2 separate regions of the Homo sapiens genome follow, and region 1 is linked to region 2. Evidence: fine-mapped expression QTL. A gene starts in region 2. The other region holds a variant in brackets. All regions are shown on one strand. Distances are from middle to middle.

Region 1 (11,896 bases), 44 kb before region 2:
TGCACATGTTAACTCAATCTTCATCACAATCCTATTAGGTAAGTACTATTAATATTCCTATTAAGACATCAGAAAATGGAAACTTATGTAACTTGCCAAAAGTCACACAAGGGTAGAAAATTGCAAAGCCAGGATTCGAATCCAGAAGCCATCTGTTCAAGATAAAGACATCATAAATATTGGTTGTCATCTGGAAGTACACCAGTTAAACTACAACTGCACTTCCAACGCTATTGAAGGGGAACGCACTCTAAAGAGCTCACAGTTGGGAGTTGTGAACGGGAAGGAAATGGACTTTACTCATGCACAATTCCACGCTTATGACAGTTTGGGGTGCTTTTCTTACTGCGTGCCAGGTAGATCCAGCCGTGAGCTCTGATTTCTCCAGCAGGACCACATCTTTCATCCCTGCTTTGGCCAGGTGATAAGCCAGACTCACACCAACACAGCCACCTCCAATTATCACTGTTTCTGCTCTGTCTTTCCATTGTGTTTCTGCAGATAAGGGTGGTTTTTCCTCTCTGGAAGAGGGAAAGTTAAAATGGGAACTTCAATCGGCAATGGTAGCTATAGTTCTGGCCTAAAGCACTTCCCCTTACCCGTTTCTCTAGTACTTAACACCCACTGACTGAGATTTGCATGATACTGATTTAATAATTTGGAGCATCTAAACTGTGATTTAGGCAACCTGGTTGGGGGAGGGGTGTTTGAGCCCCATTCCATATAATGATTCTGGTCCATTGTAGCTACTATAGCCAAAGAAATGAACAAGTAGCTTCTTTTTTTCAAAGAATCTAGAGAACAGGTCAGGTTTGGTGATGCACACCTGTAATCCCAGCACTTTGGAAGGCCGAGATGGGAAGATTGCTTGAGCCCAGGAGTTCAAGACAACCCTGGGCAACATGACGAAGCCCCGTCTCTATAAAAAATACAAAAATTATCCAGGCTTGGTGGCACATGCCTATAGTCCCAGCTACTTGGGAGGCTGAGGTAAGAGGACTGCTTGAGCCTAGGAGGTTGAAGCTGCAGTGAACCATGAGTGCGCCACTCCACTCAGACCTAGCAGACAGAGTGAGGCCCTGTCTCAAAAGGAAAAAAAAAAAAAGATTTAAAATTGTACAGCTGTCTAGGGTACTTTACCATGAATCAAGCTTGTAGGACTGGAAGTTGCTCTAGATGAGTCTGAGTGAGAGGTGAGTGAATGTGAAGGCCTAGGACATTACTGTACACTACTGTAGACTTTATCAACACTGTACATTTAGGCTACTCTAAGTTTATTTTTAAATGTATTTTTCTTTTTTCAATAATAAATTAACAGCTTACTGTAACTTCATTATTTTATAAACTTTTAAATTTTTTTGATTTTTGTAATAACAGTTTAAATGCAAACACATTCTACAGCTATATAGAAATATTTTATTTCTTTATATCCTTATTCTGGAACCTTTTTTCTATTACAAAATATATATATTTTTTTAACTTTTCAAACTTTTTTTTTTCCAAGACAGAGTATTACTCTTTTGCCCAGCCTAGAGTACAGTGGCTTGATCTTGGCTCACTGCAACCTCCACCTACTGGGTTCAAGCAATTCTCCTGCCTCAGCCTCCCATGTAGCTGGGATTACAGGTGTGCACCACCACACCCAGCTAATTTTTGTGTTTTTGGTAGAGATGAGGTTTCACCATGTTGGCCAGGCTGGTCTTGAACTCCTGACCTCAAGTGATCCTCCAGCCTTGGCCTCCCAGAGTGCTGGGATTACAGGCATGAGCCACTGTGCCTGGCCTCAAACTTTTTTATTAAAAACTAAGACACAAACACACACATTAGCCTAGGCATACACAGGGTCAGGATCATCAATATCACTGTCTTCACACCTCCAAATCTTGTCCCACTGGAAGGTCTTCAGGGGCAATAACACATACACAGCTGTCATCTCTTTTTCTTTTCTTTTCCTTTTTTTTTTTTTTTTTGAGACAGCGTCTCACTCTGTCACCCAGGCTGGAGTGCAGTGGCGCCATCTTTGCAAATTCCACCCCCAAGGTTGAAGCGATTCTTGTGCCTTAGCCTCCCGAGTAGCTGGGATTACAGACACGTACCACCACGCCCAGCTAATTTTTGTATTTTTAGTGGAGACGGGGTTTCACCATGTTGGCCAGGCTGGTCTTAAACTCCTGACCTCAAGTGATCTACCTGCCTTGGCCTCCCAGAGTGCTGGGATTACAGGCATGAGCCACCATGCCCGGCCAGAGCTGTCATGTCTTATGATAACAATGCCTTCTTCAGGAATACCTCCTGAAGGACCTGTCTGAGCCAATTTTACTGTTAACTTTTTATTTTATAAGTAGGAGTATACTCTAAAATGATGATTTAAAGTATAGTGTAGTAAATACATAAACCAGTAGCACAGTGATTTATTATCATTGTCAAGCATTATGTACTGTATGTAATTGCATGTGCTATAGCTTTATGTGACCGGCAGCACAGTAGGTTTGTTTAACCAGCATCACTACAAACACGTGAGCAATGTGTTGCATATGACATTATGACAGCTATGACATCACTGGGTGATAGGAATTTTTCAGCTCCATTATAATCTTACGGGACCACCATTGTATATGTGGTCCATCATTGACCGAAACATCATTATAAGGCACATGACTATACATATATGTATATTATAATATGTATATTCTATGTGTATACACATTTTAGAGTAAATTGTAGGTATCATACCCAGTTACTTCTAAATATTCTTTTGCTAGTTTGGTAAGAAAAAGGACATTCTCTTACATAACAACAGTACAGTTTTCAAAGTCAAGAAATTTAACATTGATATACTATTATCTATAGTCCATATTTAAATTTAATCAATTATTCCAATCAATTTATAGCTACTTTTTTCCAGTCAGAGATCAAATCCAGGATTCTGTCTCTTTAATCCCCTTTAATTTGGAACAGTTCCTAATACTTCCTTTGTGTTTTATGACCTTCACATTTTCGAAGAGTACTAGCCAGTTATTCTATTTTATTTTTTTTTTAGATGGAGTCTTGCTCTGTTGCCCAGGCTGGAGTGCAGTGGCACGATCTCGGCTCACTGCAAGCTCCACCTCCCAGGTTCATGCCATTCTCCTGCCTCAGCCTCCCAAGTAGCTGGGACTGCAGGCGCCCACCACCACGCCCGGCTAATTTTTTTTTTTTTTTGTATTTTTAGTAGAGACGGGGTTTCTCCATGCTAACCGGGATGGTCTTGATCTCCTGACCTCGTGATCCGCCTGCCTCAGCCTCCCAAAGTGCTGTGATTACAGGTGTGAGCCACCACGCCCGGCCAGTACTAGCCAGTTATTTTATAGAACAGTTCTTACTGTGAGTTTGTCTGGTGTTTCCTCATGATGAGACTTATGTTATGCATTTTTGGCAAAAACATCATGAAACTGATGTTGACTCCTTCCCAGTGTATATGATTAAGAAGCGTATGATGTTGGTTTGTCCTGATATTGGTGTTGTTTCTGTCTGATGACTTGCTTAAGGTGGTGTCTGTCTGATTTGTCTAGTAAAGCTACCATTTTTTCCTTTGTATAAGTAATAATGTGAAGTGTTACTTTGAGACCATGTAAATATCCTGGTCCTTATCAAACTTTTACTGAGTGGCTTTAACATCTATTGATTATTTCCTAACCCCATCATTCCTATTATATTTAATAGTTGGCATTCTACTGTAAGGAAGTAATTTTCTTTCACCCTTGTTTGTTGGTTGTTTATATTAACATGAATTTATGGATATTTATTGTTTTCAGTGGTTTCTAATCCATTACTAGTCATCATTTATTTGAATACCAAATTGTCCTAGATTTGGCCAGCAGGAGGTTCTTTCAGTTGACTCCTGTATGCTTTTGACATGGCTACATAATTCTTAGAGCATGTCCTTATTTCCTGGTGCCACAACATGTTTCAGCAGTTTTGTTTCACCGGTTTTTAGATGACTATTAATGTCTCTTTGTATGCTGTGTGAGAAAAAAATAATGTACATATGACCCAACTACTTTGGACGGAAATCCATTTTTAAACAGACTGGGCATATCTTGTACTTTAGTTGAAACCATTATAGTGGTGACAAAAATAATAATCTTAAAGGTTCTTTTTTGTGTGTTCAAAAGAAAGAATTATTTCTTTCAGGACAGTGGTCAGTTGAAACAACAACAACAAAAGAGAACTTAAGATCAGGAAACCTGGGTTTGAGTCCCCAATCCAACTGAACAGCTATTTTAGAGAAATTTACACAAGGGTCTCAAAGTTTTCTCATTTGCAAAACGGAGCTGTGAAGGTTCTGTTTGGCAACATATGATAAAGCATTATCAAATATATAGTATTTCCTCGGCCCAGCATGCCATAATAGGTTTCAGACTAGGTATAGTGTTTTTGATTATGTGGATAACTATCTTAAAATCCTTCTGAATGTAGTCGAGGATGTTTATAAGAGTATTTGAAATAAAACTTAGGAGCCATGCAAAAAACCCAGGTCAGTTATCTTCTGTATTAGAAATGATAAGCACAAACTGTATGCTTGTTCAACTGCTTTCCAAAATAAAACATTTTTTGATAGTTTGAAATTGGGTATATAAAGAATATGCAATTGAAATAACTCAACTTTTGGGTGTTTTTGTTTTTGTTTGTGAGATGGAATCCCTGTCGCCCAGGCTGGAGTGCAGTGGTGCAATCTCGGTTCTCACTGCAGTCTCCGCCTCCCAGGTTCAAGCGATTCTCCCGCCTCAGCCTCCCAAGCAGCTTGGACTACAGGTGCACACCATGACACCCAGTTAATTTTTGCATTTTTATTAGAGACAGAGTTTCACCATGTTGATCAGGCTGGTCTCAAACTCCTGGCCTCAAGTAATCTGCCCACCTCAGCTTCCCAAAGTGCTGAGATTACAGGCATGAGCCACCACACTCAGCCAAAATATGAATTTTTTGGATAGTCTTGAAATTTGTATCTTATTTATCTAATCAGTTTGTTTGTTAAATTTCCATTTTATTTTGCACTGGATTAAAAACATCATTATTATAAATATTTTTGCATTGCTTTACAATTTACAAAGCACTTTCACATGCATTCTCTTATTTAATATTCACAGCAATCCTGTGAGTTATATAGAGCAAAATTAGTATCCTCATTTTATAGATGAGGAAACTGAACCTCAGAAGTGTAAGGTCACATTCTGTGTAACAGATGGCGCAGGAACTGTGAGTTGGTGGCTACTGCATTCCCAGTACTGGAGACAAACCTAGCACATCACAACACCCAGTAAATATTTGTTGAATGGATAGATGGAACTCAAAAGCAGGTCTTCTGATTCCAGAATTTCAGGTCATAGGACATAAAATAAAATTCGAATCAACTCATAATAATGTTGAGTGATGCTGATAAACAAGCCTTTCCTGGCAACCAGGAATAATCTACAAATATAAGAAGTCGAAAGATGTTCAGCATTGCTCATATTTAAATACAGACCAATCAAAACAAGGACATGCCATTTTTACCTATCAGATTTAGCAAAGATAACAAAATGGGCTATTCTGGGAACCAGGGAAGATGTGGGAAA[C/A]AGACACACACTGGTGTGCCGCATGCAAACTCTTGCCACCCACTTGGAGAATGTGTTGCTGTCTTTCAATCTTTCAGATGCACGTAACCTTTTCCCTAACAAGTTCACCTTTAAAAACTGTTGCTACCGACTCCCATATGTACTCAAAGATAGATGCCTAAGAATTTTCACATGCACGTTATTTGCAGTAATAAACAACCAAAAACCATTTAAATGTTAATGAATAGACTAACGATAGTGTAGAATATTGACAGGATGGAAAACTATGCAGCCATTAAAAGGAACAAGGCAAGTCAGTGTGTGCTGATATGGAACAATCTCCAAGATATATTGATAATTGTAAAAAGCAAGATGTCAAAAAGCCAAAGGAAAACCTATACTGACCTGTGTTTGCCTATGCGTAGACTGTCTCTGGTTAGATTCAGAAGACACTATTAACAATTGTTCACTGGCCAAGGGGATTGGGGCAGGAGAGACTTTACACGGGGAACCTTTGGATACTGTTTCACTTTATAATTAAAAGATAATTCGAGAAGATATATCAAGGCCTATTTCTTGGAGGCCAGAGCGCTCCTAACCCCTGAGCCTGCCTCAGCCTCTGGCTCCCACCCCCGCAGCCGCCCCGTCGCCTCTGAGCAGGACGGGGCCCCACTCACCCTTCCCGGCCGCAGACAGAGCGCGGGCGCCCGGGGGAGCCCTGCAGCGGGCAGCTCCGCAGCAGGAGGCCCCGCAGCAGCTGCGCGCCGGGACGGAGCATGACTAGGCCGAGGCCGAGGGCGCAGGCGCCTGCTCCGAGGCCAGCGGGCAGCCTGAGGCCGCGGGGCCGGCGGGGCGGGGGTCGGATCCTCCCCCCGGGCTGGGGGCGGGCTCCTAGACGGCCGCGCGCCCGGGAACCCGGCGCCCACAGAGCCGCGGCACCATGGCACCTGCTGGACGCCCGGGGGCCAAGAAGGTGAGTTTCGTCCCCTCGATCCTCGCGGAGCTCCTGGCCGCTGGGCTGCGAGCGACTCCGTTCACACCCGGCGTCCATCCCTAGCCAAGCCCTGGGGCCTCGGCAAAACACTTGGACGGGATGGCCCTGAGCCTCAATTTTCCCCTGTCACGGGTTGGTTAGCGTTTATGGAGCCCTTACTCGGTGCCTGGCGCTGCACAGAGTGCTGTGCTCAAGTTATCTCCTCATCTTCACAATTATCCCCATTTCACAGGTGAGGAAACTGAGGCTCGGCGAGTCAGGCGACTAGCTCAGGGTCACGGGTCCAGCCCCGCGGGGAGCGAGGATCAGAAGTCTAGCTTTCGGACGCATGTCGCGCACACATTTTCTTCCCTCAACCGACCCTCGCCCGCAGCTCTTTGGGCTAATCCGTCCGGGAACTCTTCGGACTGTCCCCTCGCGTTTTGGAAAAGTCAGCAGCCTGGCCAAGCAGCCTGGCCTTGCGAGTCGCCGGCTGGTCTGAAACTAGTCCTGGGCAAGGACGCCCCCAGAGCTGCGGTGCAGGGTGGAGGGTAGGTGGGATTCGCTAGCACCCCTCAACCTCCTCTCACCCGGTGGTCCCCAGCTCCTGGCCCCTTTCCTGGTCTGGTCACCAGATGTTGGCTTTATGCCCAGCCATTTCTACGTCGAGTATGTGTGGGGGTGGGATGAAGGAGTGACTAAGCAAAATTAGGAAGGGCATGAGCTTGGACGAAAGACATCCCCAGGACCCTTCAGAGACCCCCACCCGCTCCAGCCCTGTCATTCAGAATGGGAGGAAGGGAGGAGGGGCAGTTTATGCGTGGAAATGTGCACCACCGAGCTATTTATACTAAAAAGTTAGAAACGACCAAGATACTCTGCAATACGGGATTCTAAATAAATTAAGGTTCATCTACTTAAGTTATTAGACAGTTAAATAACTTAGTATGAGAACCAGCTAAGTGCCTTGGCAATGTTAAGTTGCAAAAGGAAATATATCACAAACTGATCCCAACCATATACAAATATTTATATACACACTGTAAGGAAGGACACAATAATGGTAATAGTTACACAAGATGTGGAATATTGGTTTAAAAAGCATGTTTTAGGATATTTTTTCAGGTTATAAAAGCAAAATGTGAGCATTGAAAGAATACAGTTAATAAAAATAATCAAAGAACATTGTGCTTTTTTCTCTCAACTTTCTCTAATGCTATGTTCATCTTTACAGTTCATATTTTTAAACGTTTTTAAAATGCCCTGTTTTTGTTCAGTGTCTTTGGGGCCTCTACTGTTACAACACCAAGATTATCACACACTAATCCATGTGAATGTGTACCTGGGAGTTAAGGTGTTAATGGGAAGGAACTAATCTCACCTCTCTCCTCAGCTAGCAGGTACATTTTAAGAATTCATTTAATTGCCACAGACAAGACCTCCAATTAGGTCTTAAATCCAAAAGAGCAGTTCTGCTGGCAAATCTAGGAAAAGGGGAAGTTATTTTAGACAGACTGGGTTTTTCTGATCACCTCCTACTACACAGTGAAGTTGATCCCCACTGAGTATGAATAGAGATGTCTTGAAGCCAGATCTTAAACCCAGAGGTCTTACGTAGTGATATCTGCAAAAAGGGGGCATAAATGCACCCTAGAGCTCGCTGTCAGATGCAAGGCAGGTTCACTGCCAAACTGATGGGGAGGAGGGAATGAAAATATAAATGTACTGCAAAATTAATTTACAGGGTTCCTTATTTTACATGTTCCTGTCTTTATAATTTTACAGTTGACTTTAGATCGTACTAGTATAATGGTGAGGAACAACACACACTGGGGCCTATCGAAGGGTGGAGGGTGGAAGGAGGGAGAGGATCAGGAAAAATAACTAATGGATACTAGGCTTAATACCTGGGTGAGGAAATAACCCATATAGCAAACCTCCAATGATGCACATTTACCTGTGTAACAAACCTGCACATCCTGCACATGTACCCCTGAACTTAAAAGTAAAAAAAAAAAAAAAAAAAAAAACTAAAGAAGGGATCATACTGGTATAGTAATTAATTGAGGTAGTTAGAATAGCAGTGAAGGAAGGGCTAAAAGATGCTCTGATCTCAAATCTTGATAACTTAGTTATTTTGCTAATGGCTATGTAGAAAAATGGCAAATTGGCCGGGCACAGTGGCTCACACCTGTAATCCTAGCACTTTGGGAGGCCGAGGCAGGCAGATCATCTAAGGTCAGGAGTTCGAGACCACACTGGACAACATGGTGAAACCCTGTCTCTACTAAAAAATACAAAATTAGCTGGGCATGGTGGCATGCACCTATAATCCCAGCTACTTGCGAGGCTGAGGCAGGAGAATTGCTTGAACCCTGGAGGTGGAGGTTGCAGTGAGCTGAGATCGCGCTACTGCACTCCAGCCTGGGCGACAAGAGTGAAACTCTGTCTCAAAAAAAAAAAGAAAGAAAAGAAAAGAAAAATGGCAAATTTAAAATGGTGGACAAACATCCAGATAACAAATGAAAATGTCCTCCCTTTACTTGGTTTCATAAAGACACAGTCAAAATATATACTACAATTTTCTTAAAACCTACCTAATTGTCTGCTAAAGAGTAACATTTTTTCTTCTTCAGGACAAAAATTCTAGCATATGCAATACATCTGACATTTTCAAAACAGTCCTGTTTATTTGCTAATTCTTGGCATAGTTTCTTAAGTGTCTACTCATTTTAGTTGTTATATGTGGTGGTAGGGATATAGACCAATAAGATATGTCACCTGCCCCCAAGCCTCTTACAGTCAAACTGAGGTGACAAGTAAGTAACCAGATACTGCTGTACAGGGGGATGCATGAATGAAGGATCTGTGAAGTTAAGCAGGACACAAAAGGGGTATAATCACAGGTGAGACTGGGTCAGTGAGCCTGTGCTCTGGTAGCAATGGAAGACAGTTCAGAGTAGGGCTGGAGAGAACTGGAGACCATTTCAATAATCAAATGCAGTGAGGATGGTGGGGCATTTGAGAAATGTGTAATACACTTGGCATAACCCTGTGATAGGTTGGATGTGGGAGGTGAGAAGCTAACCTACAACATCTGAATTCTGTGCCAATGTTTTCCCTCGACAATTGTTTGAGTAAATTTGATTCTTTTTTTTTTTTTTTTGAGACAGAGTCTCACTCTGTTGCCCAGGCTGGAATGCAGTGGCACAATCTCAACTCACTGTAACTTCCAACTCCCAGGTTCAAGCTATTCTCCTGCCTCCACCTCACAAGTAGCTGGGATTACAGGCACCTGCCACCATGCCCAGTTAATTTTTGTATTTTTAGTAGAGATGGAGTTTCACCATGTTGGCCAAGCTAGTCTCAAACTCCTGACCTCAAGTGATCTGCCTGCCTCAGCCTCCCAAAGTGCTGGGATTACAGGCGTGAGCCACCGCGCCTGGCCTAAATTTGATTCTTAACATGGTGAACCTAATGAAGTGTATGGGATTTTCAGGAAAACAGTTTGTACACAGTAACTGTACCTCTGACTTTCTCTTCTGTATTCCTGTGTAGCATTTATTGGTCACATTCTGCTGTGATTATTTGTTGATTTATTGGCCTTCCCCAAAGTAGCCAGACTTTGAGCTTGTGGAGGGCAGAGACCTTGTCTTATTCTGATGTTTATCCCACTTGCCCACAACTATACCTGACATGTGGAAGGTCTCAATAAACGTCCAAAATTTAAGGCCTTTTTTATATTTCAAAAGTACAAATTGAAAAGAGTGAATTGCATTTGATGCAGGGAGGAGAAAGAAAGAGATGAGAATCAGTAAATATTAACATTTCTTCTGCATTCAGCTAAAATTCAGCTTTAGATATAAAATATGGAAAAATAACCAGAGTTGAGAGCTCTCTCTGCCAAAATAGTGTTTATGTTTAACATAGTTCACACAGCTGGGCTCCATTTGCCTGCCCTCCAAGTGCACAGTAAAAAGATGCTGTAGGTAGAGTGACCTGGTATTTACCTCTAGTTAAACCCCTTCTGATGGACCTTCTTGCACTGCAGAGGAAAGAAAACTAACCACTTTGCCAGACTCCTTTGCAGCTAGGATCTGGATAAGAACTAGCATCCCCAATCAGATGCACCAGTATGAGTCTGGGAAGGTGGAAGCATAGCAAATGTGGCCATAGTGCAGCATTCCAGGGTCACGTGAGGGGCAGCTGAGGTCGCTGGAGCAGCCTCCTTCTCCCTATATGACAGCTGTGTCCTGAAGCCAACAGTTCAATAGTGGCTTCTCTTAGTTGTGGCAGAGGGTGCAGCCCCAGCCGGCCAATTCAGTCATGTTTTTCTAGGGGTCATTTCTGGAAGCCCAGTGTAAATTTTTTATGTACCCATTTCTCAATATTAAACTCCTTTCTGCTTAGTCAGAGTGGTTTGTACTTCTGCAGCTAAACTGAACATGGGGAGAAAGCTAGAATAAGCCCCCTCTCTAGTCATGCCATTCGATGGAGATTAAGAGATTATTCAAGCCATATTTGACCTCTCATGTTTGGTTCCATACTGTTAACAGGACTGTCCTGGGAGGCTCTGTGGGAAGATCCTCACGTCTGCTTTAATTTCTGGTTGCTTTTATTAGATCCAGGATTGACCCAGCTAAGGACAAAGACTCCTGTAACCAAGATCAAATTAGCTTCCCTCTTATTCTTTATTGCCTTTATGGCCTTCCAGCCTCCTGGGAAAAGATTGAAGAAAATAGTATATCAAGCAATATGGCCAAAATGTGTTTGGGATCTCTTTGTTCCTTGGTATCCAAGGAAGCTCGCTCCTGACACCTGGGTGGGTCACTTTGTGTGGGGAGTAAGCAAAGGAGAAATAGCAGATGCCAGACACTAGAACAGAAGCAGTTTCTCTCCAAAATCTGTTCCCCCTCCTTCCGAAGGATTAGCGTTGGAGCTGGACACATGGACATTCACTGATGATACTTCCTGGCTTCCCTTGCAGCAAGGTAGAGCCATGTGGCTAAACTCTCACGCAGGAAATGTAAATGTCAATGAGATGAGTCACTTCTAGGTCTGAGCTAAAAACTTTAGGATGAGCTTTGCCACACTGTTTCCTCATCGTTTGAGACAGAGTATGAACGTGACTCTGATCCAGTTTCCCCCATGCTGAGGAGGACAGTACCCTAGGGCTGGGTTGGCAAACGCTTTCTGTAAAGGGTCAGATAGTAATTATTTTTAGCCTTGGGGGCCATACAGTCTCAGTGGTAACTACTCAACTCTGCTACTGTAGTGGAAAAGTGGCCATTAGACAATATGTAAATCAATGGGCAGGGTTTTACCTAAGACTGTTTTTACAAAAACA
Region 2 (11,896 bases):
GTCCATGAGTCAGATGAGGTTATAAAAAGTTTGGGGAGCTTTTGAGAAAAACAATCTACTGAAAAGAAAGCATAGAGTAACTCTAAAGAGTGTGATCTCTGGCTTCATTCGGCCCAGCTGACGTCCTCTCTCAGCTCTGTGCTTACTATTGACATGATCTTGGGAAAGTTCTCATCTGGCCTCCATGGGCCTCAGCACTGTCATCAGTAAAATCGGGCTGGTCAAATCCCTACCTCACAGGGCTATTGTAAGGATTACTAATGCTTACAAAGCACTTAGCACAGCTAACTCCACATAGGAAGTGCTCATAAAGTTACAGTTATCTGCTTAAAAAAAAAAGCCACAAAAGGGCATGTGACAGGCTAATCATCCTGTTAGAAAGCATTTGAGGAAAAGCAGAAGAGAGGAAATTTCAGAGCTAGAAAGGGAACTCAGGATGCAATTACCATGCTGAGAGGATAGTTCTGGGAAACTGGAGGTGTCCAGAATGAACAAGAATATCAGCTGGAGGACTCCTCTGTGGAAAGCCAGGAGATGCTGGAGACGCTGGATATGCTGGCTAATCTGCAAGCCCTGAGGGAAGCATTTTCACCTGTGGTGGAAGGAAGCTCTGAGATAACAAGCAAAAACAAAAAGCTCAGCTGTTTCTCTAAGAACTAGGAAATTAAAGGCAAAAACTCAAGCATGGGCAGCAGTTGGAGGCACCAGCAGGAGCCACAGGCACGGTCAGAGCCGGGCTCAGGAAGGGCTCGCTGATGGCAAGGGAAAGGCAATGAAAGCACCCTGGGAAGAGGCTGTTTTGTGCTCTAAGTTTATGCCAAACCAAATGCAAAGACAAATCTGAAAAGTCACCCAGCTTCAACTTCTAATTTTCCATATGAAGAAACCAAGACCCTTTAAAGAGGAGTAATTGTGCAGTGGTTGGCTATGCATGAACGTGTTGGGACAAATGCATGTATGTGGCCACTGCAATAGACAGGGTGCTGGACAGGACAGGTAAACTGAGGAAAACCTGTGCACCTGCAGAAGAGAGTTTTAGAAGGAAAATCCACCTCATCAACCTTTTAGTATCGTCATCCTGGCAAGAAAAAATAACGGGGGTTAGTGGCAGTAGGAAAATGTAAGGCAAATGAAATCTTCGGTTTGGGGGCTACTTGGGGGAACATGTATTCCGTAACCCCAAATATACCTTCTATTTATAGCAGAAGTTGAAAGCCCAAATGCCTTTAAGGTAAGGTAAATATGTGAACCAGAAGAGTGCAGGGCAGCTGGGTGTGGTACAGACCAGCAAATGGGAAGGGTGGAAGCGCCACATAAAGGAATTCACATTCAATTTTTTAAAAACACTGGCCTTGCCAAAGGAAACGCAGAAGCTGGCTCCATTTCCACATCAGCAGTTTGCAAACACTGTTCTGTACAGTGTTAACATGTAAAACCACCATTAAACACAGTGTTAAAACATCATTAAACATCATACTAAAATATAAAACATCATTAAACACAGTGTTAAAGTATCTTCAATGGTTTAAGGCTAAATGAAACATATTTAGTCTAAAAAGGCCTGTGAAAAGTCAGTTTCATTTTAAAAGAGATCCCAGTTGAGTGGGAAATGAAAAGTCCTGACATTTTTCCATCTACATATTGGTAAAAGGAACATTTTAGCACTTATATGAGATGGTTTCTATCTCTTCCTTGAAAAAAAAAAAAAAGGAGATGATATCCTTTACTTCCAGCACCAAGCATAGGGTTTAAAACATTGTATTAATGGTACCTAAATGTTTATTGAGTGAATAAATAGGATTTCAAATAGAACAAAGCACTGGTCAGAGACAGAACAATAACCGAGTATCTTTTGAGGTTGTAAAATGAAGGGGGTGGATCGCCAGCTCTAAGTCTCCTCTTCTTCTTTGGGATTTATTTTTAACCCCCAACATCTTTGTACACAGCCATGGACTTCAGTCTTATGACCTCCCTCATCTGGTTGACTCCAGTAGAGATCAGAGAACATAGGCAGCCTCCCAAGGACAGTTTATTGCAGAACTCACTTCCTGCCAGGTGCAGTGGCTCACGCCTGTAATCCCAGCACTTTGGAAGGCCGAGGCGGATGGATCACCTGGGGTCAGGAGTTCAAGACCAGCCTCTCCAACATGGTGAAACCCCGTCTCTACCAAAAAATACAAGTTAGCCGGGTGTGGTGGCGCCAGCCTGTAATCCCAGCTACTCGGGATGCTGAGGCAGGAGAATCACTTGAACCCAGAAGGCAGAGGTTGCAGTGAGCTGAGATTGCACCACTGCACTCCAGCCTGGGCGACAGAGTGAGACTCTATCTCAAAAAAACAAACAAACAAGCAAAAAACCTCACTTCCTAAGTGGTATCCAAGCAGACTTAGTTCTCTGGGAATGGGGCAAAGAAACTTCAGGGAGCATGCTGATGATCCATCTAACTCCCTAACTTCGTGGTTCTTGAGAACAAAGAGGGGACACCCACCTCACAGAGTTGTGTGGGGTAAATAATGTTGTGTAAGTAAAAGGCTTAGTGCCTTTTACATACATGGTGGATATTATCATCTATTATGGAAATAAGTGAATAATTTTTTAAATGGACCTAATTGGGGGTGGGGGCATGGGATAGTTAGGACAACAAATTGAGAGGCCCAGAAAAAACAAAAATATTTTGACAGCACCTATAAATCATTCTGGAAAAGCTGGGAGTCGATAATTTTTTTAAAAAACGAAAATTCCCTACGTTCGAGTACAAATCCTTTTATATACATCTATACACTTAGGTATGCATAAAATTCCTCTGGAAGAACGGTTAACAGGCAATAGTGGTTACCTCCAGGGAGGGGACTTGATCTGCAACAGCAGCTGGGGAAAGGCTTCTAAATTTTTTTTGCCATGTTTGTTCTTGGAGAAATAAAGATTAAAAAAGTAAAATTTTTGCCATGTGTCTATATTACCTATTAAAAATTCATAATTCACTTCTAAATTTAATGCTACTAGTTTAAAATTTCTCCCAAGTTTTGCCACATTTTGAGGAAACTGAAATTGGGAACGTCGGCTTTCAGCCTTTATTGAGTGTTAGAGTGCTTATACCGCCTCCTAGTGCCAGATACCCACGACTGCGGCTGCTCCCTGCAGCCACCGCGGGGCTCACTCTAGACCTGTTCATCTCACCAGTGCTCACCAGGTGAATACCTTAACTAGTTAACGCATTAACTAACTAAACTGTTACCTATTCGGATACTCCAATGCCTTCAAGGTGTTTTTTTTTTTTAATCTAGGTACTGTGAAGAATGACTTTACCTCATGCCTCATTCTTGCTGACCCCAGATCACAGTTGGGGGTGGAGGAGCCAATGAAATAATAGATCACTTGAATAACAGTATATCCTTTCACCTTTTCATTTCTTTTTCCATTTTAAACTTGACATACTTAGAAGCAAAAGGACATTTTTACTTTCTCAGTTGTATTTCAAACACATGTCACTTTAGCCGTTAAATTTGTATTAATTCATCAGGTGTTGCAGTAACTTTCTTCTCTGCATGTGTTGAAATGGAGGTTGTTTGTCCACATACAGAATTTTTTTACATGCTTTTATTTGGGTAAAATTTTCTGAACTGTGTTTCAGATATTTCATTGTTCTGTAGGCTATTTACTGTCATGCTGTACATTTTTTTTTCTTTTGAGACAGAGTTTCACTCTTTTTGCCCAGGCTGGAGTGCAATGGCACAATCTCGGCTCACTGCAACCTCTGCCCCCAGGGTTCAAGCGATTCTCCTGCCTCAGCCTCCCGAGTAGCTGGGATTACAGGCGCCTGCCACCATGCCCGGCTAATTTTTGTATTTTTAGCAGAGACGGGGGTTTCACCATGTTGGCCAGGCTGGTCTCGAACTCCTGACTTCAGGTGATCCACCCGCCTCACCCTCCCAAAGTGCTAGGATTACTGGCATGAGCCACCGTGCAGGCCATGCTGTACATTTTTTAAAGTAATGTTTTTATTATTTTAAAATCAATGTATTCTCATTATAAAAATATTTTGGAAAATACAGTGAAACATGAAGAATAAAATAAAACAAGCCTTAATTCCGCCATCAATAGGTAACTACTGTTAACATCTCTATTCCCTCCAGTTCTTCTAATGTCTATGTTTTTATATCGTTTTCATGCTGAATTTTGAAGTCTTCAAAGTACATTTCTGCTTCCATTTATAAATGTTAAAAGTCTGTCCTTGTTAAATATTACAAACATATTCTTATTAGAAACTACTGTGTTATTAGAAACTGCAAGGCATGTTTGGGTATAGGGGTAGAAGGTCATTTTGAACATACCCGCCAATTCAGGGTTAGTATTGGACTCCTCTACTAAAGCCGCATTTGTGTCCCGTTATACTGGATGTATATCACACAGGAGATCACACTCCAGGCTGAAGATCTTCCAGGACTTCATCCCCTGATTCCATAATCTTGACGCCTTGGCCTTTGACAAATATCTGAGCATCGAATGGACTTCTCAGAGGCCTCTCTGGCAGCCTAAGTGGGCCATGGTGCATGATCCCAGGTGAGCGAGAGGACGGTCAGGGTCGGGGCAAAAGTGCAAGAGGCAAAAGGGACGCTAGGCAGGTTTGAAATCTGAGCGAGTGGCAACCTCGCTTTTTCTTATCTTACTTTTCGGTGGTTCCACCCATTTGGGTGAACAATCTGGATTACCTCCTTGGCAGGCCAGGTTCCCAACAGGAGGCGGGCCTGATGAAGGGCTGGTGGGCGTGTTCCCGCCCAAGGTCCGTGTTGGCCCGCGCGGTGGCTGGGAGGCCCTCCCCACGCCCAACTGCGGGTATAAAGAGGCAGGCTGCGGACTCGGAGCAGCTCGGGGCTGCGCAGCGGGAAGGCTCGCCTAGTCGGTCCGCATCCGTGTCGACCACCTGTCTGGACACCACGAAGATGCCACCCGTTGGGGGCAAAAAGGCCAAGAAGGTGAGTCTCCAGGGGACCCGAGGGCGCTCTCCTTCCCCTCCCACCTGCTCTGTATCCCAGCCTCTGGGAGCGCAGAGGGGCCCTCGGACCCTGCCTGGTACCCATCATCCTCCTACTCCCTCCCCTCCCTCAGCCTCAGACCAGAATGTGCTTCCAGAACTTCTCCAGCAGGACCCCAAGGCGCCTCTGAGCCTCCCCACTCCTGCCCCACGTTCAGAGCGCGCCCCCAGAGCGCCTCTGTCCCCTCCAGCCCCAGCCCAGCTTGGACCAGAGTGCGCCCCAGATCTATGTGATCCTTGCCTCTCAGACCCAAAGGCACCCTCTGAGCCCTCCCTGACGGCTGGGTGTCCCCAGAACTCCGAGCCTTCCAATATCTTCTGAATCTGGCACCCCAAGACCAGAAAACTCCCTAGAGATACTGCTCCTAGCCCCGCAGGCGCGATATCCCGTCCCCACGGAGCCCCTCCGCATCTGTGTCCGAGGCCGCCGCGAGCGCCCTCTGCACCCGGCGCGCCCAGAACAGGGAGGAGTGCACGGCGCTGGCTCCGACATTTCCCGCCTGGATCTGCACCGCGGGTGTCGGGGCCGCCTCCCCGCCGGGTTCTCGCTGCACCCAAGGCCCAGGCGCTGGTTGGGTGATTGCAGATTTTCACAGGCAATTTGATGTCCGTGATGACAGAAAAATGTCATCCGAAATGTCAGCCTCGAAAACATGGTTTAAGAAAAAATGGGCAGAGTGGCTGTAAGATACTGAGGAAGGGCTGTTGATGAAATTGTAAAACCCAATTCCAGCTCCAGATGAACAAGTCCATCTCTTGGCTATCCCAGTGGCTTGTTGGGAGGGGTATTTTCAGTCCAGACGGTAGGCCTTCCTCTAATTTGGGGAACGGATGGATAGATGGACTGACTGCCGTGGAATGAGACTGGACAGGTGGGAAGAGAGAGAGAAGGATGGAGGGAGGAGAGAATAAACTTGACCTTTTGGTCAAATGCCCAGTCCCAGGCCTGGCACGACAGAGGCCCCCGGAAAATGGTAGGGAGGCAGATGGGGCCAGGCCAACTGTATCCTCTGGGCTGTAAGGACAGTGAGAAAGGTCCAGCTCTCATCCCAGTGCCTGCCCTGCTGGAGAACCAGCTGAGGTGTGCCCAGTTTCTAAAGGGATGGCCTCCCAAATCAAAAAGACCTCTACACAAGGAAGAAGGTCAATTCGGTTACAGATTCTAAATGCAGCATCGTGGATGCATGTTGATGGCATGAGTGGGTGTTGAGATGGCAAAGGACTATGGACTATCACCAGTCAAAGGAGGGTGAGAATTTCGCCAGTCCCTAAATGTACTAAATGAATAGTCCACAGAGACTGGGAAGGATGATTCCTATAGATATAGATATTTTTTGTTTGTCCCCATTCTCATAGCCACGTAAGTCTAACTTATTCCCCAAACTCAAACTCAGAAAATCTAACATTTTAAAGAATTATCTTTGTAGAATTATCTAAGCAACAGATGAATGTAAGATGGAAAAAACAGTTTCCTAGTAACTTGTTTCCGTGCATATGTCAGTGTTAAAACAATATATGGACAATAACATGTCTACACATTTGAGTTTAAAATTAAAATAAATGTTACAAAGTTTGCACATGTTCATTATAAACAATGAGGGAAAGCACAAAGAACAGTGCCTGTTAAATTCTGGTGTATATTCTGCTAGTTTGTTGTTGAGGCAAATATGCACTTCTTAGACAAAAATGGGCTGATATTACATATACTGTTTTGTAATACTTTTTCACAAAATGGTATATTTTTTTCATAGCACATTCCACCTTTTAAAAAGTCTGTTTAGCTTGGGAACAGAAAATCCTGAAGTCTAGATAATTTTAAAATGCAATAGAATGTAAGAGATCATATTTCCAGAGGTAACCACTCAACAAGTGCATGAGCCACATAGTAATTGAATCGCCACTACCCACCCTGCCACCCAGCATCAGATCCTTAGCTATGCTGCACATTAAAATGCTGTGGTACTAAAATTTGAAAACACACACGTTCAATGGGAGCTGCTAACTGCCCAAATGTCATGAATTATTTTATCCAAATAAAAGTTAGTAGCAAGTCATATCTCATTTAAGTGACCCTTGTTATGTTTTTTATGTAACTGTGCTGGCAGTAGTATATATATATATATATTTATATATATGTATACATATATATATTATTGTTGTTGTTAATTAGGTCATAATCAAAGTTGCAGTTTTCAGATGTGACATTTAGATACATTGCAATCATGACAAATATTTGGATTTCAAAATGACGTGTGAGCCATTTATATTTTTGTTGTGCTTTGTTATCTTATGGGCTCCCATAAGATAACAAGGCTTCAACACTATGGCTTGAAAATGTTTTGATCTGAAAGGTATATTAGGGAACACACAGCATAATCCTACCACTTTGCTTCTGTCTGGTGAAATGTCAATTGTTTCCTCTCTCTGAGCACCAGCTGTCCAAATGGCATGGGAAGGGGCAGTGGAGGGGAAGAGAATGAAAATGAGGGAGGTTCTAAGAAGGTGGCAAGGAATTGGGATGCAAAATCCTGTGACTGCCTCTCACAGATTTCTGGAATCTTGTTATTATGTCAGCTTTTGTTTTATCCACTGTTATTGGTAGTAAGTGGAACACACTGGGTAAATACGTCCCAAGTTATTCCTTTACACTATACAGTTTTTTTCAGGGCTGTCCCACCACCCCCAATCCCATTTGAAATCAAATATAGATGTTATTTAAGCATAAAAGAGTCAGGAAGCCCTATGCTCCCCATCTGGAAAACCATGTATAAATTACTCAGGGACTCTGGGTCTTAATTTCTCATTTGTGAAATGAGAGAGAGATCTCAATTGAATTGAGTACTATTTATTTTTAAAGTCTATGATTCTTTGAAATTACAAAAAATCTATTAAACTAGAGAATTACTTTGTAATTCACAAAACCCTTTCAAAATACTTAATTCCAAAGTTATCCATAGAACAACACCAGGGTGATTACTGCACAGTATTGTAAATGGAATAAGTATGGAGATTGGGCTGAAAAATCATTCAACAAATACTTTAGTTGTCTCTTCCTTGTTCTCATCATAGAGTACAGCATGTGCACACTCATAACCTGGACTGTATAGCATAGCTACTGTTGTGGAAACTGAATTTTAACACCAAAGATAGAAGTCTTTGAGTGATTTGGCCACCTTTTCAGTCTTAAAATAAAATGGCTTAATAGCATTGCTGGGCACTGTGGCACGAGCCTGTAGTTTTGGCTGCTGGGGAGGGTGAGACTGGAGGATCTTCTGAGCCCAGGAGTTCAAGTTCCTCTGGGCACATAGTGAGATGCTGTCTCTAAGAAAAAAAAAAAAAAATAGCATTCTATGCCATTTCAACTTCTTTAACAATTTTTTAACCCTCTCTTTAGTTTGTTGATAGAGTAAGAAGACTAGTATTTACCATTTTAAGAATCTGTGCTTAAGTGCAGATTTGAGGCTTTACAACAAAATCTTTTCATTTAATCCCTCAGCAGACAGTTCTTCAAACACACCTCCCACGGTGTTCTTCAAATACTCTTTAACGTGTTAAGAAAGACCCCCCCACCCACAGCACATACAAAGGAATACACAAATGTTTATTTTATGAGCATTCTGGTTGTTTGTCTTATAGATAGCCATAAATGTATATATAAAATATACATTTTTCTCTGAAAATTCTAAAATAACCACACATCTCCAAGAATATGTTAGCAAAAGTAATAAAAATAGAAAATTATCTTAAACACTCAAGTAACTCCTTTTCCTCCCTCATCTGTAATTTTAGGGCATCCTAGAACGTTTAAATGCTGGAGAGATTGTGATTGGAGATGGAGGGTTTGTCTTTGCACTGGAGAAGAGGGGCTACGTAAAGGCAGGACCCTGGACTCCTGAAGCTGCTGTGGAGCACCCAGAAGCAGGTTGGTGCAGAGCTCTATTGTAAGTTCTCATAAAGGAGCCGGGTGTGGAGGCTCATGCCTGTAATCCCAGCAACTCAGGAGGCTGAGGTGGGAAGACCACTTGAGCCCAGGAGTTCAAGACCAGCCTGGGCACATAGGGAGACCTAGTCTCTCAGAAGTTTTTTAAAAATTAGCTGGACATGGTGGTGCACTCCTGTAGTCCCAGCTACTTGGGAGGCTGAGGCAGGAGGATCGCTTGAGCTATTTTATGCAAATGATTTTGTGTATCTGCAGCGCTTTTGTAATTTAGACTGAGTGGTAGCTAGAATTGATGGAAACCCCTGAAGAGTCTTCCTGCAAGCTGGACTTCACCTGCAACATTTTTATATATCTCATGCCTGGGCCTGACTTTTTCATGTTCTGGGCAAAAAGAAAGGAGTGGTTATGCTACAGGCCCACAATCCCCTGTCCAAACCACATTTTGGGGTCAAACATATCTTGGAATCCAGGAATCTGGGGATGTTAGAAAGTTAATACAGTACAAATGTAGCATATTATGTAACACTCCCAATGGGCCCTGAAGCAGCTCCCATTGAAACACATTAATACATTTTTGCATCAAAATACATGACTACCCTTACTAATTGAAACATGTTTATCAATACCTTCATGTTGGTTCAGGTCATATTTTGCCCCCAAATGGTTTTGCTGCAAACTTACCCAACTGAAGAAATACTTCAGAATTTTATTTGACCTTTTAGAGTTTGCTGTGGAATTTTAAAAACTTGCATTTCTCAAGCTAAATCTATAAGGCTAATCTCCAACTATGCCATGTACATATATAATCATGTATCAATGTACATTTAGCTTCTATGATTTTAAAATAAGTAATATAATGAGGAGTTAAGGCCATAAAATGAAGGTAATCAATTAGTATAAGCGACGTCATTGAGTAAAAGGGACTAGCCCTATTGTATTATGGGTTAGAGTAGGAACCTTGTGGTCAGGAAAAAGTAGGTGAAAGGATACTCAAATTACCAGCCTCATTCTCTTGCTAAAGTTTATGCCCAAAGTTATGGTTCTTGCACCCAGTGGAAGCAGCTTTAATTCAGCAATGAATTCAGGTTATCGGGGTCTGGAAGAGTTTGAGGAATCTGCCTTTCTGATAATTGCCCCCAGGTGACTCTAAGATGGATCATACTTAGAGAATCACTGCAGTTTTAGAAGCATGATGAATAATCAAGAGTGAGGAGTTGTCTTCAACTGTTTGGGATCACTGCCCTGTGGAAAAATCTGATAAAATTTTATAGACCTTCTGCACTGTAAAATGTATTTATACATAACAATTTGCACACATTTCCAGGGTTTTTTTCATGAAACCTCTGGAACTCCACCCAAGGACCATGTGAGTGGACTTCGTAGTTATAAACCATTTATTCCTAGTGTCCAGAAACCTAGTATATAGGCCTTTCAGCCCTCTCCAGCCACAGCAGCTCTGGGTTTATCTGATTGATATATGGAACTCCCTATATTTTTCATTGGTTCTGTTATTAATTAAAACAAGTTTGAAGCCCGCTAATTTAGGGATGCTTTTGAGGTCCCACTGAGAACTTTCTATGATTTAAAAAATCATGGAAAATCTTTGGCTACAAGCTTACAAATGCATTTTCTAAAATTTAAAAGCTTTTTTCACTTGTGTATTCATCTCTTTAAAAACAAAAACCAAGGTTTCTATGTTCCAGTTACTCTACTCTACTAGTCGTCTGGGAGACAAGAGATGAGTATAGACTCATCTCCAGCGTTAGCGCTGAGAGCTAAGAACTTCAGTGTCCTAGTAATTTCCTAGCCTGTCATATAGTTGCTCCTGGACCTTTGGATTTCATAAACCTCTGAAATTTCAAAATAATTTTCAGGAGCTGATATATTAATAGCATGCTGATTTCTTACTTTGCCCAGTTAATTCTCCTAACGAAAACAACCAAGTTTTTGTGAAATCCAAGTTTCACAGTCATTTTATAAAAGGAGTTTTTTTCCACTATCTTACAATGGCAGTTTTTGACAAGGCTGAAAACAAAGATGGGTTGGGGAAACTTAAAAAAAAAGATGCCTATGCCTCACTCCAAACCATTTAAGTCAGAATATCTGTGGATTTGACATTCCAATCCGTAATTTTAATTTGCAGGGGATCTAATGGGCAACCACAGCTTAGGACAGCTATTTTAAAACAAATGATAATTTCTTAAACTGAATACTTTTAGCTATATGGGGAAAAAATCCCACCATATTTCCTCCAGCTGATAAAACTTTGCCATTTGGAGGCCTCACGCCTGTAATCCTAGCACTTTGGGAGGCTGAGGTGGGCGGATCACTTGAGGTCAGTAGTTCAAGACCATCCTGGCCAACATGGCGAAACCCTGCCTCTACTAAAAATACAAAAAAATTACCAGGCGTGGTGGCAGGTGCCTGTAGTCCCAGCTACTTGGAAGGCTGAGGCAGGAGAATTGCTTGAACCCAGGAAGCAGAGGTTGCAGTGAGCCAAGATCACGCCACTACACTCCAGCCTGGGTGACAGAATGAGACTCCATCTCAAAAAACAAACAAACAAACAAACAAACAAACAAACTTTGCCATTTGGTATTCATCCATGGAACTGTGCTTGGAAATCTTGCTCCAATTCTTATTTCACCATGCTACCAGAATTATCTTTTGAAAACACTGTATTAATTACATCATCCAGTTGCTTAAAAACTATATATTTCCCTGATTCATCAACTCCAGCCACTCAAGGTACTTGTCATTCCCCCAAATGCCATGCCTGTTCCCGCTTTATTATCTTTGCTCAGGCTATTCTCTCTGGATGGAATTCCCTTCCCCACCTTCTCTGCCTGGCAGTAGCATTGAATTCTTCCAAGTGCAGCTCAAATGATTCCTCATCTTTGGACCTCCTTCGCCCCCTTGCCCCA

What was found. PIP is the estimated chance that this variant, and not a neighbour inherited with it, causes the effect. A credible set is the group of variants that fine-mapping cannot tell apart.
Region 1: its variant is the best candidate, but not a certain one, in a credible set for the expression of BHMT in thyroid (GTEx, PIP 0.72).

What each region holds. Positions count from the first base shown.
Region 1 is chr5:79,063,267-79,075,162 of GRCh38, forward strand. It overlaps DMGDH (dimethylglycine dehydrogenase), which reads right to left and starts at 6,408. Exons shown (of 16, transcript NM_013391.3): 1 at 6,254-6,408; 2 at 347-521. The coding sequence starts at 6,354. BHMT2 (betaine--homocysteine S-methyltransferase 2) reads left to right here and starts at 6,501. Exons shown (of 8, transcript NM_017614.5): 1 at 6,501-6,549. The coding sequence starts at 6,517. The variant C/A (reference allele first, on the strand shown) is at 5,598.
Region 2 is chr5:79,106,946-79,118,841 of GRCh38, forward strand. It overlaps BHMT (betaine--homocysteine S-methyltransferase), which reads left to right and starts at 4,864. Exons shown (of 8, transcript NM_001713.3): 1 at 4,864-4,973; 2 at 8,822-8,954. The coding sequence starts at 4,941. It overlaps LOC124901012 (a long non-coding RNA gene), which reads right to left. Exons shown (of 2, transcript XR_007058837.1): 2 at 7,862-8,353. RefSeq lists an enhancer at 5,190-6,034.